Regions from separate parts of the Homo sapiens genome. Here region 1 is linked to region 2. Evidence: fine-mapped expression QTL. A gene starts in region 2. The other region holds a variant in brackets. All regions are shown on one strand. Distances are from middle to middle.

Evidence for each region. PIP is the estimated chance that this variant, and not a neighbour inherited with it, causes the effect. A credible set is the group of variants that fine-mapping cannot tell apart.
Region 1: its variant is the best candidate, but not a certain one, in a credible set for the expression of CCDC150 in NK cells (Schmiedel 2018, PIP 0.77).

Annotation. Positions count from the first base shown.
Region 1 is chr2:196,969,811-196,985,658 of GRCh38, forward strand. It overlaps a transcript of ANKRD44 not described here. Among named protein-coding and RNA genes, the nearest start is that of PGAP1, 51 kb to the left of the region's middle. The variant T/C (reference allele first, on the strand shown) is at 6,524.
Region 2 is chr2:196,632,312-196,648,159 of GRCh38, forward strand. CCDC150 (coiled-coil domain containing 150) reads left to right here and starts at 7,404. Exons shown (of 28, transcript NM_001080539.2): 1 at 7,404-7,467; 2 at 14,030-14,193. The coding sequence starts at 7,456. It overlaps LOC105373823 (a long non-coding RNA gene), which reads right to left and starts at 7,374. Exons shown (of 2, transcript XR_923747.3): 1 at 7,085-7,374; 2 at 6,117-6,256. RefSeq lists enhancers at 6,916-7,135, 7,156-7,205, 7,190-7,727, 7,728-8,265.

The DNA of each region.
Region 1 (15,848 bases), 340 kb after region 2:
ACCAGCTCTAAGCTCCGCAGCTAAGGAGTAATGAAGAAAATCTGGAGGTGCTCCAATAAGAACCATCAAAATATTAAGAATTTAAGAATATATCCTTTTAGGAACAATAAAAGGAACTGAACTTAGCTTAAAGGTTTCTTCAACTGTAAAACATGGAGATTTGACTCAGTAATTTTAAGATCCCCCTAATAGGGACTTCAAAATTTTAAAGTGGAGATAGGGGGACTTTAAAATCAGTCTTGTGTTAACTCTACATTTACTACATTTTTTCAGATAACTTTCCATGATCCTAAATTTGTCATGCTGCGGTTAAAGCCCGTTTACTCTCTTGCTCAGAGGAGAATGGGCACATCTCCTTAACCTCTTCTGTCTGGAAGAAATTCTTCTTATGATGGAAGGACTAAGATGCAGTCAGCCTTCAACCATGGTTATTCCTCAGCATCTTCATATGCTGAGTTCACTGTTTCAGATGCTGTGGGTAGTTGGCAGTTTCTCTGTTGACTAACGGATCTAGTCTCAGAACAAAAAAAATGTTAGAGCTGGAAGGATATGAGAAATTACTGAGTCAAATCTCCGTGTTTTACAGTTGAAGGAAGCTTTAAGCTGTTTGAGTTCAGTTCCTTTTACTCTTCCTAAAACTGTGTATTCTTAAATTCTTAATATTTTGATGGCTCTTATTGGAGCATCTCCAAGTTTTCTTCATTACTCTTTAGCTATGGAGCTTAGAACTGGTTCTACTGAACAGTATTAACATAGCATTAAGTAGAATGATTGACTTACCCACCCCCCCAATCCTTATTTATGCATTCCAGTCTCTTAAAAAAATCTTTATTGCAAAAACAACCAGCATAAATTCAGAACAAAAATTGCCTGAGATTCTGTCACTTGATTAAATCAATATTTCTTTTTGAGACATGGTCTCACTCTGTTGCCCAGGCTGGAGTGCAGTGGTGTGATCAGGGCTCACTGCAGCCTCTACCTCCTGGTCTCAAGTGGTCCTCTCACCTCAGCCTCCTGGGTAGCTGGGACTACAGGCATATGCCACCACACCTGGCTAATTTTTTGTATTCTTTGTAGAGACGGGGTTTTGCCATGTTGCTCACACTTGTCTCAAATGCCTGGGCTCAAGTGATCCTCCCGCCTCGGCCTCCCAAAGTCCTAGGATTACAGGCATAAGCCACCACGACTGGCCAATATTTTAATTTTTTCTATGTTATCTTATAGCCCTTGTCCATAGGCATATTCAATGTTTGCATATTTTTTTTGCATATAAACCAATTTTAATTCTACATTTTATATTTTCACTTAACATTATGTCATGCACATCTTCCCTTTAACTACAACTTTACCATTCCTTATACTTTCTTCCTATAACATTATAGAGTAGGTCCTGACATAACTTTGCTTGTGATCATACAAAATGACACCTATAAACAATATGTGAATTTTTCATTGATATCATTTGAGATTACAACCATAAACATTTAACTGCAACTTGCTTTTTCAAACCATACTTGATATTTCTTAACCACATTTATTATTATTTTTATTATTATTATTTGTTTGAGACGAGTCTCAGTCTCTCACCCAGGCTGGAGTGCAGTGGTGCGATCTCGGCTCACTGCAACCTTCCCCTCCTGGGTTCAAGTGATTCTCGTGCCTTAGTCTCCTGAGTAGCTGGGAGTACCGGCATGTGCCACCATGCCCCACATTAATTATTTTTAACAGCTGCATTTTTTTTCATAGTAGGGATATACTAGAATTACATTAAGATTTTCTTGAGTTTTTTCTACTACCAAAAAATGCAATAAACATTTTGGCATGCGTGTCTCTACTTTTCTAAAGGAGTAATATTTAACTCATACATACCAGAAGAGGATACTGGCTAGCAGTAAAACTCTTAGACCTGGGCCCCCTGCTAGTAAAACTCTTAGACCTGGGCCCCCTGCTAGAAGACAATTGCCCTGGCCCTCCTCCAGTTCAGGCTCTCCCCATGGGGCAAGGAGTCTGTGAGCCAAAGGGGATGCATCCAATTGTAGTCTGTGACCCCCTTTTTGACTAGTTTTATACCCAAGATGATGAAATAGCCTACTCAGAGGTCCTGAGCCCACTTACAGGCTTGCATGGATCTCTATCCCAGCTCTGTCCTCTTGAGGGAAGCCTGCGCCACCACTGCAAACACCTCTAGGCCTCAAGTGTAGCCAAGGAGTGTTTGAGGGTACAGACAGAGCTTGGTCATGCAGGCTGGGGGTTTGTATGACTACATGCAAGACTCCTCTCAGTGAGGGAGGAGGATAGGAGTAGGAAGACAATGAGGGTGAGTCATGAGCCACAGGTTGAAGATGGGAGGCTACCTTCCCAGTGCTACCATGGTCAGAGAAGGGCAATAATTTTATTTTATATTATTTTTTGAGACAGGATCTCGCTTTGTTACCCAGGCTGGAGTATGGTAGTGCAATCTCAGCTCACTGCAACCTCCACCTCCCAGGTTCAAGCAATTCGCATGCCTCAGCCACCTGAGCAGCTGGGACTACAAGCGTGTGCCACCACGCCCGGTTAATTTTTGTATTTTTAGTAGAGAGGATTTCCTTATGTTGGCCAGGCTGGTCTCGAACTCCTGGCCTCATGTGACCCACCCACCTTGTCCTCCCGAAGTGCTGGGATTATAGGTGTTAGCCACCATGCCTGGCCAGGGCAATAATTTTAAATTTGAATAGTTCTTGCAGGTTGTCATGAAGGGATGTTTGTCAAAATATGGTGATAGAACATATTTGATTTAACAGATTTTTAGCTTGAATTTACAGCAAAGTTTAAGTATATAATAGCTGATATGCAAGTCTATATTTGTAGCCTGCCCAGGACTTGAGAATGTTAGGGGCAGGCCTACTAGTCGGTGTCTCTTTTGATTAGGATTTTTTTCTGATTGGTAGGTATCTGCATCATACTAGTTGTTAAATATCTTAAATATCACCTTGCTTATTTCTCTTTCTCCAGCATAGATTCCCTAAAGTATGAGTGCTTGTTGAAAGGGTATGTATAATTCTAATGTTAATGGATATTGAAATCTTACCAGATTTTATCATTCACATTTAGCATCCCTGAAATTGGGATGCATCTTATAATTAAAGAGCAGAAAGCATTGTGTCATAGTTTAATTGGCAGTGTTTTTCTTCCTTAGATAAAATAAAGGTGCATCCTTCAATTGCTATCTTAGATTTGATGAAATAAAGTATTACCCCCATTGGAGCAATTCCTATACCCACTACCACTGTAGGAGAGTTCCTGTTTTTCAGCCAGCACCATTTATTATCACTGTTTTCAATATTTTGGGTGAAAAATAGTATGCCATTATCTTTGATTTGGATTTCCCTGACTATCATTGATGTTGAGATTATAAAATATACTTTTTGAATATTTAGATTTCTTTTTCTGTAAAGTATTAATTTATATCCTTTTCCTATTTTTAAAATTGTGTTTTCTGTGTTTTTCCTATCACTTTATACAATCTCTTAATATATTATAGATATTAAACTTTAAACTATCATTTTTATTAAAAATATTTCCCTTTCTATCATTTGACTTTAACTTTGCTTATGATGATATTACCATCCAAAATTTCACATTTTTATATAATCAAATATATCAATCTTTTAATTTATTACTTCTGCTTACAGTATCTCCCCACGCAAAGGATGCACATGAACCGGAGATTTAAAAAAATCTTTGAACAACATCAAAGGATATTCAGTGAAAATAAGTCTCCTTTTCATCCCTAACCCTGGTTTTCCCAGTTCTTCTCACTAGAGGAAACACTGGTAACAGTTTCCTTATTGCCTATAAGGGAATATTCTCTCTATATGTGTATCCCCCTCTCATGCTTGTTTATATTCACAAATGGCAGCAAACTATACTCACTGTCTATTCTTATTTGTTTACTTAATAACATATCTTTATATACAGACCATATCATTCCTTTTAAAACTTCCATGATTTCCTATTGCATTCTATTGCCATAATTTATTAAACTAGTCTCCACTGAGTTTCATGACGTTAAACATACATCTCTACACTGAGACCCACCATGGTTATTAGACTTTTATGTTATCTGTGAAGCCCTTTCTTAAGTTGACATTGAAATAAGCCTTGATAAACTTTAAAGTATTGAAATCATACAAAGTATATTCTCTTGCCATATGGAATGAAAGTAGAAATCAGTACGAGATGGAAATTTGGGAATTTCACAAATATGTGGAAATTAAACAACATACTCTCATACTCTTTTTTTTTTTTGAGACAGCCTCTTGCTCTGTTGCCCAGGCTAGAGTGCAGTGGCATGATCATGGCTCACTGCAGCCTCTATCTCCGAGGCTTAAGCAATCCTCCCTGCTCAGCCTCCTGAGTAGCTGGGACTACAGGGGTGCACCACCATGCCTGACTAATTTCTGTGTTTTTTGTAGAGACGGGGTTTTGCCATGTTGCCTAGGTTGGTCTTGAACTCCTGAGCTCAAGTGATCTGCCTGCCTCAGCCTCCCAAAGTGCTGGGATTACAGGTATGAGCCACTGAGCCTGGCCAAAACAACATATTCCTTAATGACCAGTGAGTCAAAGAAGAAGTTACAAAGGAAATTGGAAAATATTTTGAGAACAATGAAAATGAAAATGCAATATACCAAAACATCTGGGATGTAACTAAAGCAATGCTAGGAGGAAAATTTATAGCTGTAAACACCTATATTTAAAAAGAATATTTTATATTAAGATTCAATAACCTAACAACCTTAAGAAAATAAAAAAGGAGGACAGGTGCCGTGGCTCATGCCTGTAATCCCAGCACTTTGGTAGGCCAAGGCAGGCAGATCACCTGAGGTCAGGAGTTTGAGAGCAGCCTGGCCAACATGTTGAAACCCTGTCTCTACTAACAATACAAAAATTAGCTGGGCATGGTGACACACACTTGTAAGCCCAGCTACTTGGGAGGCTGAGGCAGGAGAATCTCTTAAATCCAGGAGGCAGAGGTTGCAGTGAGCTGAGGTCATGCCACTGCAATCCAGCCTAGGTGACAGAGTGAGACTCCATCTCAAAAAAAAAAAGAAAAAGAAAACGAAGAGTAAACTATACCCAAAGTAAGCAGAAGAAATAAAATAATAAAGATTAATTACAAATAACAAAAATAAATGAAATAGAGAACAGAAAAACAATAGAGAAAATTAACACAAGTTGGTTCTTTGAAAAATCAGCAAAAGTGACAAACTTCTACCACGACTAAAGAAGAAAAGGAGAAAAGACTCAAATTAGTCAAATCAGAAATGAAAGAGGGGACATTACTACTAACCTTACAGCAACATAAAGGATTAGGGAATACTATGAAAAATTGTATAGTACAACAAATTAGATCATCTGTGTGAATAGACAAATTCTTAGAAAGACACAAATTGCTGAAACTGACTCAAGAAGAAATAGATAATAGATCTCTAACAAGTAAAGAAATTGAGTTAGCAATAAAAACAAACAAAAAAACCCACAAAGAAAATCCCAACACCAGATGACTTCACTGGTAAATTCTATCAACTTTCAAACAGAATCAGAATGATAAAAATCTTTTTCAAAATAGAAGAGGAAGGAACATTTCTGAACTTATTCTTTGAGGCCAGCGTTACCATCACACCAAAACAAGAAAAATACGTCAAAAGGGGCTGGGTGCGGTGGCTCACGCCTGTGATCCCAGCACTTCGGGAGGCCGAGGTAGGTGGATCACGTGAGGCCAGGAGTTCAAAACCAGCCTAGCCAGCACGGTGTCACACTGTTTTTTTTTTTTAAAAAAAATACAAAAATTAGCCAGGTGTGGTGGCACACACCTGTAATCCCAGCTACTCAGGAGGCTAAGACATGACTGCTTGAACCTGGGAGCTGGAGGTTGCAGGGAGCCGAGATTGTGCAACTGCACTCCAGCCTGGGTGACAGAGCTAGTCTCTGTCTCAAAAAAAAAAAAGAAAAAGAAAAAAGAAAGAAAGAAAGAAAGAAAGAAAGAAAGAAGGAAAGAAGGAAAGAAAGAAAAGAGAAAGAAAGACACATCAAGAAAAGAAATTGATATCCCTTATGAATATAGTTACAAAAGTCCTCAACAAAATATTAGCATATAGAATCCAACAACATATAAAAATTATTATACACCATGATCAAGTAGGATTTATCCTATGTATACCAGCTGACTGAACATATAATTGAACCCCTTTTCTTAATAAAAACACTCGAGAAACTAGAAATAGAAAAAATTTCTTCAAACTGATCAGGGACATTTGTGAAAAACCCATGGTAAACAAAATATATTATATATATATTGAGATGGAGTCTCGCTCTGTCGCCCAGGTTGGAGTGCAGTGCAGTGGCGCAATCTTGGCTTACTGTAACCTCCGCCTCCCAGGTTCAAGCAATTCTCCTGCCTCAGCCTCCCGAGTAGCTGGGACTACAGGCACCAGCCACCACGCCTGGCTAATTTTTTGTATTTTTAGTAGAGACTGGGTTT[T/C]GCCAAAATTATATTTAATAGTGGGAGACTGGATTCTTTCCCCCTAAGATCAGGAACAGGGTAAGAATGTCACTCACACCACATCTATTCAACATTATAGTGGAGGTTCTAGCCAGGGAAATTAGTCAAAAAAAGTAATAAAAGCTATAAAAGTAATCATCCTATACAGATTGGAAAAGAAGTAAAACTATCCCTATTTGCAGATGACATGTAGAAAATTTTTCTTACATGTAGAAAATTTTAAGGAATCCAGCTGGGTGCAGTGGCTCATGCCTGTAATCCCAGCACTTTGGGAGGCCAAGACAGGTGGATTGCTTGAGCCCAGGAGTTAAGATCAGCCTGCACAACATGACAAAACCCTATCGCCACAAAAAAATACAAAAATTAGCAGGGCGTGGTGGTGCACGCCTGTAGTCCCAGCTACTTGGGTGGCTGAAGCCAGAAGGATCACCTGAGCCCAGGAAGTCGAGGCTAAAGTGAGCCATGATCATGCCACTGCACTCCAGCCTGGACAGCAGAGTGAGATCTTGTCTCAAAAGAAGGAAGGAAGGAAGGAAGGCAGGAAAGAAGAGAGGGAGGGAGGGAGGGCTCTAAGGAATAGTTTTTCCACTGAAAAACTATTAGTGTTCACAAGCTCAGCAAGGTTGCAGGATAAACGATCAATTTTTAAAAAACAATTGTACTTCTATATACTGGCAATGAACAATCTGAAAATAAAATTAAGAAAACAATTCCCTTAACAACAACATCAAACAGAATAAAATATTTAGGAATGAATTTAACAAAATAAGTGCAAAACTTGTATACTGAAAACTAGAAAGCACTGTTGAAAGAAAGACTTAAAATAAATGGAGAGACATCCCATGTTCATGGACCAGAAAACCTAATACTGTTAAAATGGCAATACTTCCCAAATTGATCTACAGATTCTAAGTATAAGAGCTAAATCTATAAAATTCTTAAAAGAAAACATAGGAGTAAATCTTCATGACTTTGAAGTAGACAGTGGTTTTCTAGATATGACACCAAAAATATGACTTCTGTGCCTCAAAGGATACTGTCGAGAAAAGGAAAAAACGACCCATGGAATGGGAGAAAATATTTGCAAATCCTGTATCTGATAAGGGACTTGTATTCAGAATATATAAATAATGCTTATAATTCACCAATAAAAACACAACGTGATTTAAAAATGGGCAAAGGATTTGAACATACATTTGTCCAAAGAAAATATACAAATGTCCAATAAGCACACAGAAAGGTGCTTGACATCATTAGTCAGCAGGAAAGTGCAAGTGAAAACCACAATGAGATATCACTTCACATCTACTAGGATGGCCATAATAAAAATAAATGAGGAATAAGAAGTACTGGCAAGGAGGTAGAGAAATTGGAACTCTTATACATTGCTGATGGGAATGTTTGGCAGCCTCTGCGGAACAGTTTGGCAGGTCCTCAAAATGATAAACATAGAGTTACCATTTCCACTCCTAGATATATACACAATTCCACTCCTAGGTATATACACAAGAAATCAAAACATATGTCCATAAAAAAGTCTGTACACAAATGTTTATAGCAGAGTTATTCATGATCGCTCAAAAGTAAAAAAACAAAAACAAAACCCAAATGTCCACCAACTGATGAATGAATAAACAAAATGTGGTATATCCATATAATTAAATATTATTTGACTATAAAAGGAAATGAAGCACCTCTATATGCTGATACAGTTTGGATGTTTGTTCCCTCCAAATCTCATGTTGCAATATTACTATAATCCCCAATGTTAGAGGGGGGCCTGGTGGGAGGTGTTTGGGTCATGGAGGCAGATCCCTCATAAATGGCTTGGTGCTGTCCTTAAAATAATGAGTGTGTTCTTGCTCTGAGTTCACAGGAGACCTGCTTGTTTAAAAGAGTGTGGCACCTCTCCCCTCTCTCTCCTGCTCCCCCTTCACCTTCCACCATGATTGGAAGCTTCCTGAGGCCCTCACCAGAAGCAGCTGCCAGCACCATGCTTCCTGTACAGCCTGCAGAATCATGAGCCAAAATAAACCACTTTTCTTTATAAATTACCCAATCTCAGGTATTCCTTTATAGCAATGCAAGAAGAGACTAACACATATATTAAGACATGTATGAACCCTGAAAACATTCTGCTTAGAAGCCAGTCACAAAGAGCCACATAGTGTATTATTTCATTTACATGAAATGTCTAGAATTGGCAAATTCATAGAAACAGAAAGTAATTATTGGTTGCCAGGGGATGGGGAGAGAGAGAGAATAGAGAATGACTGTTAATGGGGACAGTTTTTCTTTCTGGGGTGATGAATATATTCTGAAATTAGATAGTAGTGATGGTTACATAACTTTTTAAAATCACTAAAAACCATCAACGTGTATCCTTTAAAAGAGCGAATTTTATGTTATGTCAATTATATCTCAATGGAGCTTTTTTTTTTCTTTTTTAATGGCTGCTGATTTTGAACCATGGGCCATAGTTTACCAACTCTCTGTTGTAACCAATATTTACAGACCCTGAAGAAAGGCCATCCGATATTGTTTTAAAAAAAAAAAAGGCGACAAAAAAGAAAATAATAGTAACATCAAGCATTTTGTTTTCTTTCCAAAATAGATATAGCATAGTCGTAAAGATTATTAATTCTGGAGCCACTTGACTAGATTTGAATCCTAGATCTGGCACTAATTAGCCATGAGTTCTTGAGATAATAATAATATCTACCTTCTAGAGTAGATGTAAGAATGAATAGCATCTGCAGGCGCCAGGCACGGTGGCTCACGCCTGTAATCCCAGCACTTTGGGAGGCCGAGGCGGGCGGATCACGAGGTCAGGAGATTGAGACCATCCTGGCTAACACGGTGAAACCCCGTCTCTACTAAAAATATTTTAAAAAATTAGCCACCTGTAGTCCCAGCTACTCGGGAGGCTGAGGCAGGAGAATGGCGTGAACCCGGGAGGCGGAGCTTGCAGTGAGCCAAGATCGCGCCACTGCACTCCAGCCTAGGCGACAGAGCGAGACTCCGTCTCAAAAAAAAAAAAAAAAAAAAAAAAGAATGAATAGCATCTACTTTCTAGGGTTGTTTTAAGGATGTAAAGCACTCAGAACAGTGCTTGGCACATTGTAAGCACTCAGTGAGCATCAGCTATTTTTACTATTCACCCCAATTAAAAAGCAGCCTGAGTAATTTAATAAGATGACTTTTTTTTTTTTTTTTTTTTTTTTTTAAGACAGAGTTTGGCTCTTGTTGCCCAGGCTGGAGTGCAGTGATGCAATCTCGGCTCACCACAAACTCTGCCTCCCAATTCAAGTGATTCTCCTGCCTCAGCCTCCCGAGTAGCTGGGATTACAGGCATGTGCCACCACACCCGGCTAATTTTGTATTTTTAGTAGAGACAGGGTTTCTCCATGTTGGTCAGGCTGGTCTCGAACTCCCAACCTCAGGTGATCTGCCCACCTAGGCCTCCCAAAGTGCTGGGATTACAGGCATGAGCCACCGTGCCCGGCCAATAAGGTGATTTTTATTTGCAGTTTAAAGGTTTTTAAAGGTTTTTGTCACAACCAGCATCTTAGCAACACTGTCCCCTGCTCCACACCATCCAGGACACTCTCAGATCACCAGGCTGGCGGCAAGGAAAATGATCATTAATATACACTAGAAAATATGTTCTTATCTCTAGGAACTATTGTTAGCACTCTGAAAGGCTTTTCTTTTTCAATATCTGAATGACATTGCAGTAAATTAATTGGTTTTCTCAATCTAATTTCTAGTGTTAGCTGTAACATCACAATGCAAGCACCCAGATGGCACCAACCGAGCCCTTTATCATCATTTTTAGCACTGATGCCAAAAGGAAATGGGCTCAGCAGCCTAATCAAAATTTACATGCTAATGGGTAGACCCTTGTGAATGAAGTTAAGCAGAAAATCAATAAATTACCAGGTAACATTCTCCTAACAAAATTTTTTACAAGTTTTAAGTAATAATAAAACAGTAAGGAGTAAATTTCAGGCCTGAAGAAGAATGTGAAATAAAACATGGAATGGATAAATCATTTCTGAAAAAAAGAAATTCAAAAGGGAATTAGAAACCCGTTAGCTTTCTATTTATTTAGTTTAAAATTGAGATTTTTCAGGAAAAGTTAATGTTTTAAAGCAAATTTAATTTTCACCTAAACAGCAATATAGAATTCCAATAATTTCAGTCTTTTGTCCTCTGCAGAAGGCCCGCTGGGAAGTATTCAATTTTTCATTGTTATCACTAAGACGTTGTCTGAACCACACTCTCCTTTTGTTCATTCTGCAGCTCTTTGCCATCTGTCATGTTTTCTGGAGAGCCTCATAAACACATTTAGGTTAAACCATATGGTCATAAAACCTGTCATTCTGTCATAGCCAAGGTTTGGTTAGTTTTTTAATAGAAATGCACTTGACCATTTTTACTTTGTTAAAAGCTTCATCCTAATCCTGGAACCGAATTTCAGCCTGACAGTAAATCAGCTCTTAGTATCCATCTACTTAAAGTAAAATACCTGAATAATAGATGTTTTGAAGTAGTTAAATGTTCTCATTTATTTTGCTTCAATTCTATGATAAATAGCTTTTCCTATTTGTCATGTTGGCCTCCTCAGATTTTTACTTCTTCACATCCAATGCTTTTTTTTCTTCAGTCATTCTCAACCACCCACTCCCATGGTTATATCCTTTGCTTTGTCATCCTCAAAACTATACCACCTGTGAAATCTTTACTTTGGGCACTCCACATCAAGATCACCAACTCTGGGGCTACAATTCAATAATTCTGTCTTATCCTGACCCCCATTGACTACCACTTTTTCAGTATCCATCACCTCCCTCATGTTTTCACTTTCTTCCTTACCCAGTTTAGAATCCATGATCTACATAATCACATCCATTAAAAGCACCACAGTTCCATAACCCTCTCTCCCTTTGGACTTACCTAGCAAAGCTCTATACCAGGTTAAATTCCACTGTCTTCTTACTCTATGCCTACACCCAAACATCTGATGAAAAAATCCACCAGGATGACTGGTATCATTTTAGATTTATGATTATAAATCTTGAGTGTACTAAATCCTACTCAGTAACCCTCCTCTGTTACTCTAAAATGTTCTCTCCAGGCTGGGCGTGGTGGCCCACACCTATAATCCCAGCAGTGTGGGAGGCTGAGGCAGGTGGATCACCTGAGGTTGGGAGTTCGAGACCAGCCTGGCTAACATGGCAAAACCCCATCTCTACTAAAAATTTTTTTAAAAATCCGCCAAGTGTGGTGGTGTGTGCCTGTAGTCCCAGCTACTTGAGAGGCTGAGGCAGGAGAATCGCTTGACCCTGGAGGTGGAGGTTGCAGTGAGCTGAGATCGCACCATTGTACTCCAGCCTGGGCAACAAGAGTGAAACTCCATCTCAAAATAATAATAATAATAAAATAAATACATAAATGAACTCTATCTTGCCAAATCCATTGGTCAACTTCTCTGCATTTGACTTCCCAGAAGCAATTGAGACAATAGAAATCACTGACACTCCTTCTTCTATGACCCTTTATTTCCCAGGTTTCAGGGACATCTTGGTCTCTTGGTTTTCCTCCTGCCTCTGACCATTATGTCTTGTCTTCGCTGCTAGATCCTCCTCCTCCCCTTCCTAACCTCTAAATGCTGGAGTGTGCACAGTTCAGGGCTCTTCTATCATTTATTCCTGAGGGAATCTCTTCTCATTTGTCAATACTAAAAAAAATTATATATATATATATATATATGCAGAGACAAATCTCTAAGCAAGAGGATTTTATTTGAGAGTAATATACAGAAAGTAGGCTTGCAATAAGGACATGCACACAGAGACCAGGGCAGTTTCCAGTGTGTCCAAAGAACAAAGGAAAGGGCTGGAGTTTTATTGGGAAAGGAGAAAGAAGATGTAAGTTGTTTTCAAAGAAAGTTAATTGGCGATAGCAGAGTGGGCGCTGGTGAGCTCTGATTGGCAGGTGGCAGCAACTGCTAGGTAAAGTTCGCCTTGAAGTCATAGCAGGCTGTTTCCTTGGAGTAAACTTGCGAGACAGTTTTTGGAAGACGTTTGTGACCAGAGTGCTCTTTCCCAACAAAGGCTCCTTGACTCCATTTTCATTGGGTAGGACAGGAATGACTCCAAATCAACTTTCACATGTCTACAATTTCATATGATCCCAGCCCTGGCTTCTTCCCCAAACTCTACTGTTTACTTGACTCAAGCCATCAGCAAATTCAGTCAACTCTACCTTCAAGACATATCCAAAATGTGTCACAGTCTCTTCATTTCCCTTGTTGCCAGACAATCCAAGCCACTATATTTACTTGTCTAGGCTATTGCAGTGGCTACCTAATTGGTCACTAGGGTTTCTCTCTCTTGTCTCTCAACAGCAGCCAGAGTGATCTTTTAAAAATGAAATCACTGGATAAAGAAAATGTGGCACATATACACCATAGAATACTATGCAGCCATAAAAAAGAATGAGTTCATGTCATTTACAGGGACATGGATGAAGCTAGAAGCCATCATTCTCAGCAAACTAACACAGGAACAGAAAATCAAACACCACATGTTCTCACTCATAAGTGGGAGTTGAACAATGGGAACACATGGACACAGGGAGGGGTATATCACACACCAGGGCCTGTTGGTGGGTTGGGGTAAGGGGAGGGAGAGCATTAGGACAAATACCTAATGCATGCGGGGCCTAAAACCTAGATGACGGGTTGATAGGTGCAGCATACCACCATGGCACATGTATACCTATGTAACAATTCTGTATGTTCTGCACATGTACCCCAGAACTTAAAATAAAAATAAAAAATAAAAAATAAAAATGACAGAAAAAAAAAATCAGACCACAGCCATTTTTCTGCTTACATTTCTCCAGTGGCTTTTGTCACATTCAGAAAAATATAGAAACTCCTCCCAGCTCACAAAATTTTATGTCTGGGCTGAGATCGCTGTTAATCTTCTGCCACCCTCCCTTTCCCTTGAGTCTCCAGCCACACTGGCCCCATTTCTGTTCCTAGAACATAACAAACTCATTCCTGCCTTTGGGTATTGGCACTAGCCTTTTCCTCTCCCTAGAATGTTCTCTCCTCTGATCTTTGCATAGCTGGTAATTTCTTGTGGTTAGGATCTGAGTTTAAATGTTAGTAATTCTTAGGAACCCCAACTATAAAAAATATAAATAAAGTTCACGAATTTGCTGGGTACTTTCAACTCAATGCAAACACAGGTAAGCTTTTTGTGCTCTAAAAGTACTGCTTCAGTATTTTTACTTTTGAAAATTATAAAATTCTTCCAGAATGTAATACACAGTACTTCATTAAATTGACATTTAAAAGCAGAAAATAGTATCCTAGAAATTGTGTCCACCAGTGCCTAGAGAACCCTGTGAGGCTGAAGTACTGTGTTGTCAGAGCTTGCCATGTGACGGTGGGCCAAGTGCCCCACCTTTGTGAGCAGGAGTTCCCCCCACTGGGAAAGTAGATACAATCACCTCTTGCTTAAGACAAGAAATATACATGTGTATGGCCACATTTTGGTTTGATAACAAAGGAATTAAAGATGCCTTGATCTGTGCAAATCTTCTCCCCTGGAAAAATACATAACCAGGGCACATGTGCTCAGCATTGCCTTCCAAAGTTCTTTCTCAACCTTGTAAGTTCTCGTTCTGAGGGCATATAAAGTATGTTTATGCAATCCCTTGTGAAAATAGATGAGGCAATATGGCTAGTGTCATAAGCAATACATTGATGAAGAAATGATTCAGAAACAAGAGAAAGGCAAATAGGTGAGCAGTGGGGTAGAGGAGCATTGACATTCTAAGTGGCGCAGTTATTCCCTGGGTTGAGTGGCACATTTGGTCTCCCTGGCGCTTGGAACTATAAATACTCTAGTAGCAGCCCTGCCCACCCCCCAGCCATTGTGCCAACTACAAATGCCCACACATTTCCAATCACTCCCTAGAGTGCCTGAGAATTAATGAATGGCACAGCCATTATCTTGGTGCTTTATATTTTACAGCAAATGTACCTTCAGGATGAAATTTGCTAAAGAGACAATTCATATAGTACTTTTACCCACAATGTTTTTATGTTAATAGCCTTTTAGCTTAATGCTTTTGTGCTTTGCAAACTAATTCTGGAACACATTAAGTGTGTTAAGTGAGGGATACTTATACAGGGATCTAAACCTACCAAATGGAATTAGCGTGAAGGAACCTTTGACAAGCAGTTTGAAGACAAAGTGCCACATCAATGTTCAAAAATATAATTACCACAGTGGAGGCCATTATCACATTTCTCTGCTTATGAGAACACAATTAAAATTAGGGATCTCTACATTTTCCTTGAAAGGGTGAGTTCAGTCAGTCAAGCAAGCAATTTCCTTAGCAATGACTGGGAAGAAGGTGTATTAGTATGATGTTACAGCCTCAAAGGACACCGTGATAGACCAGGGTGGCGAGTAGCTTCCAAAAATGGCTCCTAGTAATTGCTGTTCCTGCTGTTCACACCCTTGGGGAATCCCTTGCCCTTGAGTATAGATTGGACTTAGTAACTTGCTTCTCATGAATAGAATATGAGAAAAATGATGAAATATCACTTCTGAAATTCAGTTGCAAAAATCTGTGACTCTGTCTTGCTCTTTGTCTCCCTGGCTTTTCTCAGCCTGCTCGCCCGCAAGGCAAGCTGCCATGTTGTGAGCTTCCCTATGGGAAGGCCCATCTGGCAAGGAACGGACGGCAGCCAACAGCCATCAAGGAACTGAGGCCCTCAGTGTAACAACCCATGAGAAGAATCCTGCCAACAACCATATGAGTGAACTTAGAAATGGATCGTTCCCAGGCCAACACCATGATTACAGGCTGTGAGAGACCCTGGAACAGAAGACCCAGCTAAACTAGGGCTGACTCATAGAAACTGTGGGTTAGGAAACATTTGTTGTTTTAAGCCACTAAGTTTTGGGGTAATTTGTTACACAGCAATAGATAACTAATATACCCAGTCTACTCTAAACAACAGGAAGCACTCACTTGTGGTGTGACTCCTGTTTTACATTCTTTAAGATTGAAAAGCACCCAGATTTGTATATTTGAATAAGAAGGGAGGCAGGGCTGAGTACAAAACCTCCCTTAACATTTCTGGCAGAAAAAAACAAAACATTATATGGCAAGATGGCATCGAAGAGAGAACATCTAGAGGCAGATGTGGTATCATCAGATCACTATCTTCAAAAATTCAAGTTGTATAACTTCTCTAGGATTCAGTTTCTTC
Region 2 (15,848 bases):
CAACCAGATGTCCTAAGAACTGTATCATGAGGCAGCATTAAGGGGATAGTCTAAACCATTAGAAACCACCCGCATGATCCAATCACCTCCCACCAGGCTCCACCTCCAACACTGGGGACTACAGTTCAACATGAGATTTGTGTGGGGACACAGAGCCAAACCATATCAGATAGCTGTAGTTAATAATAATGTACACTTGAAAGTTGCTAAAAGAGTAGATCTCAAGTATTGTCATTAAAAAAATAAAAGGTAGGCCGGGTGCAGTGGCTCACATCTGTAATCCCAGCACTTTGGGAGGCTGAGGCGGGCGGATCACGAGGTCAGGAGATGGAGAACATCCTGGCTAACAGGGTGAAACTCCATCTCTACTAAAAATACAAAAAAAAATTAGCTGGGCGTGGTGGCAGGCCCCTGTAGTCCCAGCTACTCGGGAGGCTGAGGCAGGAGAATGGCGTGAACCTGGGATGTGGAGCTTTCAGTGAGCCAAGATGGCGCCACTGCACTCCAGCCTGAGCGACAGAGCGAGACTCCGTCTCAAAATAAATAAATAAATAAATTAAATAAAATAAAGGTAATTATGTTAGATGATTGATATGTTAATTAGTTTGATTGTGGTAATCATTTCACTATGTATACATATATCATACATATAGCAAAACATCATGTTGTATATTTAAAATATATCCAATTTTTATTTGTCAACCATGTCTCAATAAAGCTGGGGAAAAACTCCAAGTGATTTTAAATCAAAGTAATCCTAAAAGGTATACACTGTAAAGTTTTATTCCCACAAAGGTTCCCATCTGCTTCTCTTCTCCCCGTCACATATCCTATAGGCGGAGTGATCATACATTGTGGTTTCCCAAGAACATTTCCAGTTTATGCCTTTTTTCTTGGTTTAATTATTAATAGTGCCCCCATTTACTCTCAAAAGTTTAACTAATAAACATGAGAGGAAAAAAATCAATGAACTTGAAAACAAAAGTAATAGAAAAAAATTAATGAAACCAAAACAGATTCTTCTAAAACATCAATAAAATTGATAAACTTCTAGCCAGACTGACAAAGAAAAAAAGGGAGAAGACAAAAATTACCAATATTGGAAATAAAAGAGGGGCTATCATGACAGACCCCCACAGAAATTAAAATGATAAAACGAATACAGGAAGTCCTCAAAGTGTGTCATTTCATTCAACTTTGATGAGGTTAACAAAAAAATTGATTAATGGCACACTGCGTAGAGTTTGCATGTCCTCCCCGTGTCTGCGGGTTTTCTCTGGTTACTGCAGTTTCCTCCCAAATCCCAAAGATGTGCATGTGACGTAAACTGCTGAGCTAAATGGTCCCCGTGTAACTGATTGTGTATGTGTGTGCATGTTTGTGTGTGTGTGTGTGTGTGCCCTGAGATAGGGTGGCATCCTGCCTCGGGCTGGTTCCTGCCCTGTGTCCTGAGCTGCGGGGATAGACTCTGGCCACCCACAACCCTGAACTAGGATAACTGGGTAAAAGCTCTGGCCACCCACAACCTTGAACTGGGATAACTGGGTAAATAATTATCCTACTTGTTTTTATTAATCTTTTTTTTTTTTTTCTGAGACCGCGTCTCACTCTATCGTCCAGACTGGAGTGTAGTGGCTCAATCTTGGCTCACTGCAACCTCCGCCTACCAGGTTCAAGCAGTTCTCATGCTTCAGCCTCCCCAGTCGCTGGGACTTCAGGCACGTGCCACCACGCCCGGCATTTTTGTATTTTCAATAGAGACGGGGTTTCACCATGTTGGCCAGGCTGGTCTTGGACTCCTGACCTCGGGTGATCCACCCACCTTGACCTCCCAAAGTGCTGGGATTACAGGCGTGAGCCACCGTGCCTGGCCTATTAATCTGTCTTAAATGTATGTATAGCTCTCATTTATTTCAATATTTAATATTAGAAGTGTTTTGGTCTTTATTTAGAAATTTGGTGATGTTTTTGTGACCAGAAGTATGTCATAGGCACCTAACTGTCATTTATATCAATTAGGCTATAATAAAAGTGGTTTCCTTAAACTTTCAATTAAGGTTGCCATTTCCAAGAACGTACTGAGGATGTTAAGGACTTACTGTCCTAAAAACAACTGTATGCCCATAAATCCAACAACTTAGATAAAACAGACCAATTATTAAAATACACAAGCTACCTACACTCACTAAAAAAAAAAAAAAAAAATAGTTCTACAACTATTAAATAAATTGAATTTGTGGTTAAAAACTTTTCAAAAAAGAAAATTCCCTGCCCATATATTTTACTGCAAAATTCTAGAAAACATTTAAGGAAGAAACAATAACAATTCTATACAATCTTTTTCTGAATTTATAAGAGAAGGAAACACTTCCCCATGCATCTTATGAAGCTAGCATTACCCTAATAGCAAAACCAGTATAATGAAAGAAAAATAAAGACCAGGCCAGGTGCGGTGGCTCATGCCTATAATCCCAGCACTTTGGGAGGCTGAGGCGGGCAGATCACTTGAGGCCCAGAGTTTGAAACAAGACTGGCCAACATGGTGAAACCCTTTCTCTTCTAAAAATACAAAAATTAGCTAGGTGTGGTGGTGAGTGCCTGTAGTCCAAGCTACTTGGGAGGCTGAGGCCCAGTAATTGCTTGAGTCTAGGAGGTAGAGGTTGCAGTGAGCTGAGAGCACACCATTGCACTCCAGCCTGGGTGACAGAGTGAGACTCTGTTTCCAAAAAAAAGAAAAAGAAAGACCAATATCCCCCACAAACACAGACACAAGAATACTCAACAAATTATTATTAAATTGGGTCTAGAAATATATAAAAAAGGAAAATACAGAATGATTAAGTGGGATTTATCCAAAGAATGCAAGATTGTTTCAATGTGGGAAAACTCAACCAATGTAATTTACCAGATTACCAAACTAAAGAAAAAAACCATGATTATCTAAATGGCATTTGACAAATTCAAATTTCTTTCCAAAAAAACTCTCAGCAGACTAGAAATGAAAGGAAATTGCCTGGATATGATTAAGGACAACTGTAAAAACCGATGACTAACATCATACTTAATGGGAACAAGATAAGGACATCCTTCTTTCACCACTGCTATTCAATATCATAGTAAAAGTTTTAGCCAGTGCAACAAGGCAAGAAAAACAAAGTCATTCAGATTGAAAGGGAAAGAAAAAACTCTATTTGCAGATGTCAGAATTGTTTATGTAAAAAAATCCCAAATAACACACGAAAAAAATTCTAAAGCTAGTCCTAAAACTAGTAAGAGAGTTTAGCAAGGTCATAGGATAAGAGCTCAAAATACAAAAGTCAATTATATTTCTATGTACTAGCAACAAACAATGGATTTGAAATTTAAAAAAAAAACTAGTAACAAAAAGTGGAAAACTTAAACACAAATCTAAAAAAAATATAGTATCTATATATTGAAAACTATAAGATACTAATTAAAGAAACCAAAGAAGACCTTAGATATGTGGAGAGATACATTATCTTGGTTTGGATGAAAAATTATATGGTCACACTATCTACACAGGTAATAAAAGGTACTTTTATTTCTTTTGTATATTCCCAGTGCTTATTTATACAAATATAAAATTCTTATCCCCCCTGGCATTACACAATACCTCACTTGTTCAACTTAAAATATATCCTATAGAATTTTCCATATAAGTACATAGACATTTTCCTCATAAAAAAATTTTTATTGTGAAAATAATTTTAGACACACAGAAAATTTGTAAGAATGGCATAGTAAATACTCACATACCACCACCTGGATTTCCTTATTTTCTTTGATAAACATGGTATTTGATTGTGTGAAGTTAATTCATATATTTCTCATTGAATAGTTAGATGCTGAAAATTCTGTCTTACCCCACTGCTGTCAGATGGGGTGGAGAATGGTAGGAGATGGAGTCTAACCAAAATGCATAAGCTTTGAAGCGAGATAGAGCCAACTCCAAATAACCATTCTGTCACTTATTGGCTGTATGGCCTTTAGGCAAGTTACTTAACTTCCCCCGGTGTCAGTTACTTCATAAGTAAAATGAGAATATAACTACTACACCAAAGGTTACAGTCAGAATCATGTGGTGATATGATAAAGTACAAAAGAGTACTTTAATCTTAGGAAAGGTAAAATAGAGCTGCAGCAGTGTCATCATAGCCTTGACCTTATTCATAAGTTTGGTTAATGGAACAAGGTGAAAATCTACCTGACTATAAAATTTAGTTGGTGGAGCTAAGTGACAGAGACCGTATAAGAAGCACTGTTATCCTTGGCCATTTCAATTAATAGAATTATCTTCTCAGCCGTGGCCGGGCGCGGTGGCTCACGCCTGTAATCCCAGCACTTTGGGAGACGCGAAGTGGGCGGATCACGAGGTCCAGAGATCGAGACCATCCTGGCTAACGTGATGAAACCCCGTCTCTACTAAAAATACAAAAAAATTAGTGGGGCGTGGTGGCGGGCACCTGTGGTCCCAGCTGAGGCAGGAGAATGGTGTGAACCCAGGAGGCAGAGCTTGCAGTGAGCAGAGATCAAGCCACTGCACTCCAGCCTGGGCGACAGAGTGAGACTCCGTCTCAAAAAAAAAAAAGAATTATCTTCTCAGCCTTGGGCTGATTCACCAGTTCATTAAAAAGCCAAAGACTCTTTCAAATCCTAATCTCTATACCCAGAGCCAATACTTTACCAAAATATCTGGATTGCCCACATAAGGTGAGGAGCCAGTTAGTGAATTTGCCATTTTTATTCTTTTATTTTACCAACAAGATATGAAAACTTTGGGTGTTCTGTTTGCATTTCTTTGTCCACGGAATACATTTCCAACTCCAAGGGGAAGTAGTTGCAGGGAACTTTACTGCCATTCGTGTAACTACAATGTCAAATCATCTGCAGCGTATATTCTATTTGGAGGCCTTTTCCTGGCTTACAAGTAGAGAGTGAAACACAGCCTCTATTAGTAGAGCCGTTTCAAAATTTATTCATTCACTCACCTAACAAAAACTTTCCAAACCCCTACTGTGTGCCGGGCATTGTACTTGGTGTTGAAAAGAAAAAAACAAATTCCTGTCCTTAAGTAGCTTACAGCTCAAATAAGGGGAAATAAGATACATTGACAATTATGAAGTGCTTTGGGAGAGAATAGAATGGCTTCACAGAAGAGGCTAAGTTTCTGTTGAGCTGGTGAGACTGACAAGAGGAAGGCCGTGCGCAGCAGAGTGAGCATAACCTGCAAGCACAAAGACATTCTATGGTAGCAGGCTTGACTTCAGAGTTCCACTGGGGCACTAGGTGCAGAGTAGGCTGGAGGGTTTGGCTGAAGCTATTACCAGTTTGGTCTTCATCCTGCTCAATGGAAAACTTTTCGTTCAATGGGGGAACGATTAAATGTTTTTAAGCAAAGACCTGAGATAATCAGATTTACTTTTTTAAAAGATCTGGTAGCCATATGAAGGATACTTTGGAAGGGGTAATAGGAAAACCAGTTAGGAGGTTATCGCAGTGAAACAGAATGTGGTCTTCATGGAATATCTAGGATTTCCGTGAATGAAATGATCTTGTTTGATAAATGGGGTAATGTCTGAGAACTATTTATCAACTGAAAATCAAGAGGGAAATCAGCAAGAAAATCGGTATGTTTGGCATTATTTCAATCAAAATCCTGGCAGAATTTTTGTAGGTATCAACAAGTTGATTCAAAAAATTTGGGAGAAAGGTAAAGGAACTAGAAAGTTAAAGGAACAGCCAAAACAAATTTGAAAAAGGACAAAGTTGGAGGACTATACTCCCTGATTTCAAGTTTATTGAAGACTTCAGGTCCTTTTCTCTAACTCTGTAATTGCTTAAGTTCTTATACGGTTTGCCAGACAGTGAATAAGGGAAAACAAATGAAAAACACGAATTTAATCAGTTTGGTTCCCTGACTGCTGCTTAATATGGAGATTTGAGGAGAAGGTGAAAACTCTCATTACACAAAAACACGTGGATACATGTATCACTCATCTCTTAATTCCACTGATAAACCAGAGGTCATTGCAAGATAAAACATACATAATGAAAATAATTGGCTGTTTGCACTGACGCTTTAAAATACATTTTCATTTCCTATTAAAAGCTTTATTTGGTCCCTTTCTCTGAATAATGTATGCAGTGCTCATTTCTCTTCACCGGATCGGCTCAAAGCTTGATGAATATGGCTGTGGTTTGATGGGCAGTCTCTGCATCTCACATTGAGGCTCCGCTATGAAAAGAATTAGAATAGCAAGATCAATTGTCAGGCTAAGTAAATGAGCTCTCATCTCGGATCTGATTGCTTATATGAGAGGGCTGAAGTGATTCTTGGCTGCACTCTCAGGGAGAAGAGAGAAATGCATTTTAATTGCCCTGGCAGGGATAACAGGTGTTCTGTCCAGCTACCAAAACGCAAAGCCGCGTCTTTGCACTATAGAAGGCTTTCCCTTAAGTGAGAATACATATTCTTAAAGCAAAACAACTCAGAAACGCTGGTGTGGTGATGCACGCCTGTAATCCCAGGACTTTGGGAGGCCGAGGTGGGCGGATGGCTCGAGCCCAAAGAGACCAGCCTGAGCAATATGGTGATGACCCCGCCTCCACGAAAAAATACAAAAATTAGCCAGACGTGGTGGCGCGCGCCTGTGGTCCCAGATACTGGGGAGGCTGAGATGGGAGGATCGCTTGAGCTCGGGAGGTCGAGGCTGCAGTGAGTCGAGATCGCACCACCGTAATCCACCCTTGGCGACAGAGGAAGACCCTATCTCAAAAAAGCAAACCACCAAAAAAACCAGGGACAGCTCAATGCTCTTTTCCGTTTCATAGCTACTTACACTCAGATTTACAAATACCTATTAACTTGTAGACAGGGCAAGAAATAATTTATGCTGAAGAGACGAAAGACCTGAAAACAGATTTCTGTGTTTTACTCTCCATGTGGCCATCATGGACGAGGACGAAGAGGGACTTGATTTTTCCTTTAACGAGAAGAATGTTTAAGCTCTGAATTTTTAACCAATTTTTATGCTCGTTACTCTGCTGTAGGGTATGTATTTACCAAGATTAGCAGAACACCGCGAGTTCACCAGGCGGAGACAAGTCACTGTGAAGTGGGCAGCACAGGACCCCCCGGAGGGCAGGCGCCGGAAACTACATATCCCGGCGTGCCCCGCTCGCGAGCACAGTGGAGCCTGCCGCCATTCGGTTCACGGCGCTACGCATTCCCTGAGCGCCGCCGGATGCCGGCCTGGGTCCCGCCCAGGGCTGAGGGCCCTCCTGGGCCGGGAAAACTACAGTTCCCGACATGCCCTGCCACGGGTGCGCCTGCGTACCGGAGCTACTGCGCCGGGGAGCGGGTTGGTTTAAAATGCTGTGTTAGTTCCACGGAAACCCGCTCGCCTGCTGCAGTACGGAGCCTCAGGCGGACAGATGGACTGTAAGGTGAGGCTGCCGGGCCCCGGGCTGGTGAGGGGTGGTCGGAGGCTCGCGAGGCTTCGGCTCAGATAAGGACAGTCACCACTCCCTGGCGCCCTCTCCCTGTCCTGACGGAGTCCAGTCTCACTCCCTGGACCTCAGGGCCCTGATTTAAGGCGCTTTGGCGTTGGCTGCCGGTGAAAGCCATTTAGGAGCGAAGTTTGCATTGGCCTGGCTCCAGCTGAGGGATGGGAGATAGCCACCGAAGCCTCCAGATAAGCCCAATACCACCTTTATTTATGTGTTAAGTTGGAGTTTAATAGGTTCCTGGGAAGGCTATTTCGGCGTTAATGTTTGATTTTTGCCACCAGTTAATCCTCCCTGGCTTGCTTACCAGAATATAGGTGTCAGGAATTTGCACTTGTTCTTTACGGTTTCCGCAGTACCTGGCGCTCTTGCTAGAACGGAATAGACATTCGTTAAATTCCTGTCGAAGTATTCTCCTGTTTATTTACCACCTATAATTTCCCAGGCACTGTATTAGGCTCTAAAGATAGAAAAATGTCTATTTTTAACCCCACTTTAGAGAAGTTCGTATTAGTCCGTCTTAAATGCCCCCCAACACATGCTTCTAATTTGTTAATCTTGGCGTGCTCAGGACTAGGTCCTTTAATCCTTTGTGTTCTCTGTTATCCCGCCTTATGGTTTTCTTGAGCTCTTCAGAAATTAGTCTCCAGTCCACACCTCACCCCCAAACTTCAGATCCACAAATTCAATAATGTATTTGGTATCTTTCATGTTTTAAATTTGACATTTTAAAAACTACTCTTTATCTTTTCCACAAAACGGATTCTTCCTTAATAAGTTTGCATTGTCTCAGTGATAGCACCATCCAGGCCAAAAACCCTGTAGTAATCTTGGCTTCTTCCTTTCCCTCATATCTCATATCTAATGCATCAGCAAAAGCTATCTTTCAAGTATATCTAACCACTAACCACTTCTTACAGTAGGAATACCGCTGCTGTCACCTTGGTTCTGGCCAGCAGCATCTCTACTTCTGCTTTTGTTCTTCCACCATTTGGAGTGGGAGGGAGTCAAAATGATCCAGTTAAAAGGAAAGTTGGATAGCATTCCTCAGCTATAGACCTCCAGTGACTCTGAGAATCACTGACAGCAAAAGCCAGACTTCTACAATGGCCTTCAAGGCTCTGTGTATTCTGTTTTTTGTTTTTTTGAAACGGAGTCTCGCTCTGTCGCCCAGGCTGGAGTGCAGCAGTCTCAGCTCACTGCAAGCTCCGCCTCCTGGGTTCACACCATTCTCCTGCCTCAGCCATCCGAGTAGCTGAAACTACAGGAGCACGCCACCACGCCCGGCTAATTTTTTTTTTATTTTTATTTTTGTATTTTTAGTGAGACGGGGTTTCGCCGTGTTAGCCAGGATGGTCTCGATCTCCTGACCTCTTGATCTGCCCGCCTCGGCCTTCCAAAGTGCTGGGATTACAGGCGTGAGCCACCGCGCCCAGCCGTATTCTGGTTTTATTATTACCGTCTGACCTCATCTCTCAATGTTCTCTGTGTTACTCCTTCCTCTCCAGCCAAACCCACCTCTTTATTATGTGCGGACTCATCAGACCTTCTAACTTCAGGCCTTTGCACTTGCTGTTTCCGTCTTCTGGGCCTTTCTGCCCTCTGATATCTATATAACAGGTCTTTGCTCAAATGTTATGAGGCCTTCTTTGACCACCCTGTTTAAAATGAAAATCTGCCCTGTAGCCTCCATACCATGTTCTTTCCTATTTCATTTTCCTCCTTTGCACTTATCACCAATAAACAAACTATGTATTTTACTTAGTGTCTGTCTTCTTCAGCTGGAATATAAGCTCCACGAAGGCAGGGAGTTTTGTTCGTACTGTTCTACCCAACCCCTGCCCCCCGCCTCATTGCCTATAACAGTGTGTGGCTCATGGTAAATGTTCAGGAAATATTTGTTAGATGTGTGAGTGAATGAAGACAGTGTTACCATATTATTTTCTAGTGGTTGTGATAAACAACATTGACTCCCTGGACTGTTATTTTGGAACCAACAGCATGTACTTGTATACGCTTTTGCCAGTGTACACCTATTGCCAGGTGTAGGAATGGAGCCTGTGTCCACAGAAGCATGTGTTCTCTTTTCAAAGTCATCTGGTTTTTACTAGTATATTACTTGTGACATTGGTCTTTTTCTTGCCATGCTTTCCATAAGGTTACCTGCCTAGAAGCTCTTTGGAAATATTCTCCCTAAACATCAAGACAGAATTCTGTTAGTTTGATAATAATATATGCATAGAAATTAGTTATGAATGAACTTTTTTAAAAATAAAAGTTTATATCTCAGTATTTTTATTATTGTTACTATCAAGCGTTAGGACTTAGGTTCAAGGCAGCAATCAATATTTGCTCCTTTTCAAACACAACAAAGCACAGATATGTTAAAGCTGTTGTCTCTTTGCTAGAATGTCAGCCATTAGAGGTAGATTGTTTTCATGTAAGACTGTGCTTCTTAGACTATGAGCCATAGAACTATGACTTATGAGGATCTGCCAAGTGGCCATTGGAGAGTGTGCGTGTATTTATGTATGTAGGGGTGTGGGTGGCATTTCTGCTACCACTGCTTTGGGCCTACCAGATGGGGAGGACAGGCAAGGGTATGAGCAACTGCAGTGAAAATGAGAATCTCTCTCTAACTTTAAGCCCCAACTTGGTAGATTAATTTACTGGATTGAAAGTTCTTATCTCATACTTTAACAGCCTCCCAGATACTCGGGGACTCTGCCTGGTGGCTTTAAGGCTGTCCTCTTGCTACTCAGCCATTACCGCCCCCTCCCTTGCTTCCAAGGACTCTCCTGACCTTGGCATTGTTTGGTTTTTGTTTTTGTTTTCCCATGGCGGGAAGTGGAGGTGGTGGTTGGGAGGGAAGGTTTTTAACTAACCCTGAGACTTGTTTTCATTTTTTATTTTTTTTTAGAGACAAGGTCTTGCTTTGTCACCCAGGCTGGGGTGCAGTGGCACAATCATAGCTCACTGCAGCCTCTACCTCCTGGGCTCAAGTGATCCTCCTGCGTCAGCCTCCCAAGTAGCTAGGGCTACAGGCACAGGCCACCATGCCCAGCTCATTTTTAAAAATTTTTGGAAGAGAATAGGGTCCTGCCATGTGGGCCAGGCTGGTCTGGAACTCCTGGCCTCAAGTGATCCTCCCACATAGGCCTTTCAAAAATGCTGGGACTACAGGCATGAGCCACTGTGCCTGGCCATGAGATCTGTTTTTAGTAAATCCCCAAAGGCTAGATTGGCTTATTTAATTTTTGTTTCAGCAACTTTGATGACCTGAACAGGATTCTCAGCGATTGACTAAGAGGATATTTTAAGGACAACACCATGTATTTCACTCAAAAGCTTTGTGCCCTGCCAACCATCAATCAGTGTCCGAGTCACCTCAATCTCCCCCTTCTTAGGGTGAATTTTCTATAAACCTCCTTCCCCTCAGAGGCTGGGCCAAGTTGGTTGCTCCTTTTTGAAAGTATATTTTCTCTATGGAAGCCTGAGAAGCTTCAGTGTAGAGCAGGGTCGGGTGGCACTCAGTGTGGATGCAAACCAAATTCCTACCGCGACATGTTGGACCTTCTTTTTTTTAAAACAAGTGAAGCAATTTAAATGATTTGCTGTTTTGTTTTCATGGCTGAATGTACACATGTCCTGGAGAGCCAATGTAAGCATTTAATACAGATCATAGGTTCCTTAGGGAAATATCAACAAAACTAAACATTTGAACAATTACATGAAAAAATTTTAGTTGGGAATCTGCATCCTATTCAAAATATGTGGGGGAGCTTCTCCATTTCCATTTTTTTCCAAAGACAGACTTTTGCAATATGAGTATTAGTATTATGTGCTTGGCTTCTGATATAAATGAACATAGACAAGACTCTATATTATAACCAGCTACCTGGGTCTAATAAATTGCCACAGAAATTGTTCTCCCTTCCCCTCTCCAGCACTGCTTGTCATTTTTACTTCTTCCTTCTACTTGTTTTTCCACCAGCTAATGCCTGGGCCTACTATATGTAGAAGAAAGTGACTAAAACAAACAAAAAAAAGTTTTTTATCTCACATAAGCAGAGTTTGAAGATTACTGGTTTTGCCCAAGTGTCAACATAGTCTGAGGTTCTCTGTCTTTTCCTTGTGTTTATCAGACACTGGTGATCCTTGGCTCTTCGTTTATATTTGAGAGTGAGCTGCTGCATACCTGACTGATGGAACGCTCTGGGAATTGTAAGGGGGTAGGAAAAGACAGGTGCCATCATTACTCTTTTTTTAATCTAGAAAAACAAAAGTCTGCCTAGGAGCCCTTTTGCAAACTTCTGCCCAAAGTCTCTTTGGCCAGAATATATCACATGAGTGTGCCTGCTGAGGCGAGGCTGGGGTCATGAGCTTTTCTGCTTCTTTTGGAGAGAGGACAAAGGAGCTGTGTCTGCGCACACCCTATTAGCCACCCTTTCCCTAGGTTTTCTCCCCATCTTTGGCATGATTTATCTCTAGGTCAGTAGCTGGACAGCAGGTGACAGAAAATAGAATGGAGGTGTTTCTCCATTGTTACCCCTCCATTTTTTCCCCACCCAGTGCTGTTGGTGGCTCCACCAACTGCAGCCCTGGTTTATGGCAGCTGATCCAGCCCGACGGGCTTACTCAGAGGCTCTTTCGTTTACTACTTGAGGAATACTATACTGGCTCATGTGGTAACATTACCAGGAGTCTCCACATCAGTTTTTTTTTTCCCAGAAATGTAGAGGAGCCCCACTTCGAATATTTTGCGTGTCCAGAGACTGCATCAATATCTGCATGTCTTTGTCTTTCCTTCAGGAATGAACTGAAAAAAATGAAAGTTAATTAATAGAAGGGAGCTTCTTTCACCCCATGTCCTTAAGCTGACTTAACAACAAATCTAAAGAATGCAAAAAGCTTGTGTCAAAAAAAGTTTCACAGTAGGGCATGAAAGAAAAATTCTGGTCAGAAACACCATAGTAAGAGTAAAAAGAAAAATAGGCTGGGCGTGATGGCTCATGCCTGTAATGCCAGCACTTTGGGAGACTGAGGCTGGCAGATCACTTGAGGTCAGGAGTTTGAGACCAGCCTGGCCAACATGGTGAAACCCCGTCTCTACTAAAAATACAAAAAAAAAAAAAATTAGCCGGGCATGGTGGCACATAACTGTAATCTCAGCTACCCGAGAGGCTGAGGTGGGAGGATTGCTTGAACTTAGGAGGTGGAGGTTGCAGTGAGCCAAGATCGCTCCATTTCAGTCCAGCTTAGGTGACAGAGCAAGACTCTGCCTCGAAAAAGAAAAAAATAGGCCATTTTCTGGAACCTGTGGGAAGAAGATACAAAGTGAATTGGAGAGCTATTTCAGGATGAAGAAACATCCTCAGCGGGTATAGCAAGCTCAGCCCCACCATGATTCTTGCTCCCTTAAATCCTGCCACCAGTCCTCCCACTTCATGAATTCTTGCCCTGGGTCCCAGGACCACCTTCAGCAACTTGAACATGAGGTGGACCCCCCTTTCACTTCCAGGAAGGTAAGGGTCAGGGAGATACCTGATGACATAGGAAGTGGGTACAAAGGTGTATTCCTGATATCCCAAGTTGGACCCTTGTGAACACATTCCCATACGAACACTATCGCTAGAAATGGCTAAGGCTTACAGCATGATTAGTAGAGAAATGTCTGCAGAGAACGGAGTTGCAGGACAATGTTTTTAAAGTTTTCACCAATTACCTTGTCATTGAACGTGATTCATTTACACGTTGTGACCACATATAAGCTAATTCTGCTTCTGTCACTAATATCTTGAAAGTATTCTCACTATTCTTATTTATTTTCATTGCGTTTTGGGGGAGGAGTCTGTGGAAAGTTGATGTCAATAGCTGTAGAAAGGTCTTTGCTCTTGCCTGAAGTTAAGGTTGCATGTTATTTTTTAAAATGCTGCTTCAATGCAGGATACATAGTTGGTAAGTCATTTATTTTATGGCAACTGTACAGAGGTCCAAGTATAGAATGTTTTTCAAGAAGGTTGAATGGTAATAATGTTATGATGAAAATGGCTAGTAATAAAAGCCATTCCCTCAGCAAGTCATAGGTCCTTGTGTGTGACTAATAGTGGCAAATAGAATAGACTAAATTATGATGAAATAAAGTACTCAACAATCTTAATGGCTTACAACAACATAGGTTTATTGTATGTCATGACATCCACACTGTATATCATGAATGGGTTGTGGGTCTGTTTGATGTCATTGTCACCGTGGGATCCTAGTGCCTGGAGAAAGTCCTACCTGGGATGTTGCTCATCTCATAGGGGAGGGAAAAGAGAGAGATGGTGAAGAACAAGCTGGCTCTTATAACTTCCACCTACATTTAATTGGCCAAAGCAGAACACATCACCATTCCTGAGTTCAACAGGACAGTGATGCCTAATCCTGGCACAGGAATGGCAGTGACTATTTTTGAACAATAATAGGACCTACCACACTAAGATTGTGACTGTATTCTTAGGTACATATGGAAACTACAGTGTCCAGACCGGTCCTTTCTCCAACCCACATCAACGCTACAGCTTCTGAAACATTCACAGTACTTCAGCAAAGGATGAGAATAGTTGAGGAACAGACCAGTTCACTGAGGGATGACCTAATAATGTTGGATTTTGGTGAAAAAAGGTAACAAAAATGAACTACATCTCTGTAGGTTGAAGAATTTTGCTTCACTGCTTATTAAGTCACAGTAGTTTGGCAGATGAGATGGATATTTGCAAAAGAACTGAGAAATAATTTTCATTTGAGCATCACTTAGAAAACATTTGCAAAATGAAGAGTTGTCGTTCTGTGATAGAGCTAGAGCTACTATCACTTTTTTCCTAAACAGATATTTAAAATGTGTTAATTAGGTATACAAACTTTGGTATTCTGTTCACTTGATTAAAAACAAACATGTAATTTTTCATGTAATAAAAAAAGATTTGTTCTCATTTTAAAATAAAAAGAGACATATTAAGGTTAAAAGCTAAAATGTTGCTTCATGCCATTAATTTGGTCATTTTCTTCTCCCATATTTATTATAAATTAAAAGGGGTTTTTGAAGTCTTTAAAAATTTTATAATTTAGAATGAGATACTAAAAAACAATTTTTTTCCCCTAGTGCTTCTAAAGAAGTTATTAAAAGTTGGATTATCAATGGCCTGCAGAATCTGTGGGCTTAAGCAGCCAATTGAGAATTTACTGGTGTGATTTTTTAAAAATTACATATATATTTCCTGAGTGTCTCTCAGGAAAGATATCAAAATTAGTATAGTTGGTATAATACCCATGGAATAAATAACCCTTTAGCAGTTAAAGATTAAATTTGGTTCAAATGTTGAGCATGTTGGTAACACAATAGGAATATTTATTATGACTTTAAAAATTTTCTAAAAACATGAATATATTGCCTCCATGCTGACTTTAATAATTAGTTCACTATAATAGAATTAACATTTAACATTTTTATGCATATAAAATATGCATATAAACATATATGCATACATATTTTATATGCATGTATATATTATGTACCTAATTATCACACTTTAAATATTTAACATATTTTATCACTTGTTTCTACATAACAAGAAAAGGTTTATGAAAAATCCATATTAAAATAAACAACAATTAAAAAGTCAGTGGTCCTCACTTATCACACATTGGCCTCATCTTTACCTAATAACAAGAAATATATTTAAAATTGGAGTGGTTAATAAATGCTTGTTAACTAGTCTATTCTTTTTCCTTTTTTTATATTTTATTTTTAATTGACAAATAATTGTATATATTTATGGGGTAAATGTGACGCTATGATGCATGCATACATTGTAGAATTATTGTATCAGGCTAATTAACATATCCGTCACCTCACATACTTATTTCCTTGTGGCAAAAAGATTTAAAATTAGTCTTTTAAGAATTTTGAAATATACAATACGTTATTATTAATTATAGTCAAGGTACTTTGCAGTGGATGGCTAGAACTTATACCTCTTCTTAAACTGGAGCTTTGTACTCTGACGAACAATCTCTTCTTTCCCTGTCCACCTCCTCACCTTTACCCAGCCTTTGTTAACTACTGTTCTACATTCCACTTCTATGAGTTTGACTTTTTAAGATTTACATATAAGTAAAATCATGCTATTTGTTTTTCCATGCCTGGCTTATTTCCCTATTGATGGGCATTTAGGTTGTTTCTATATCTTGGCTATTGTGAATAGTGCTACAGTGAACACAGGAGTGCATATATCCCTTTAACATACTGATTTCAATTCCTTGGGATATGTACCCAGAAG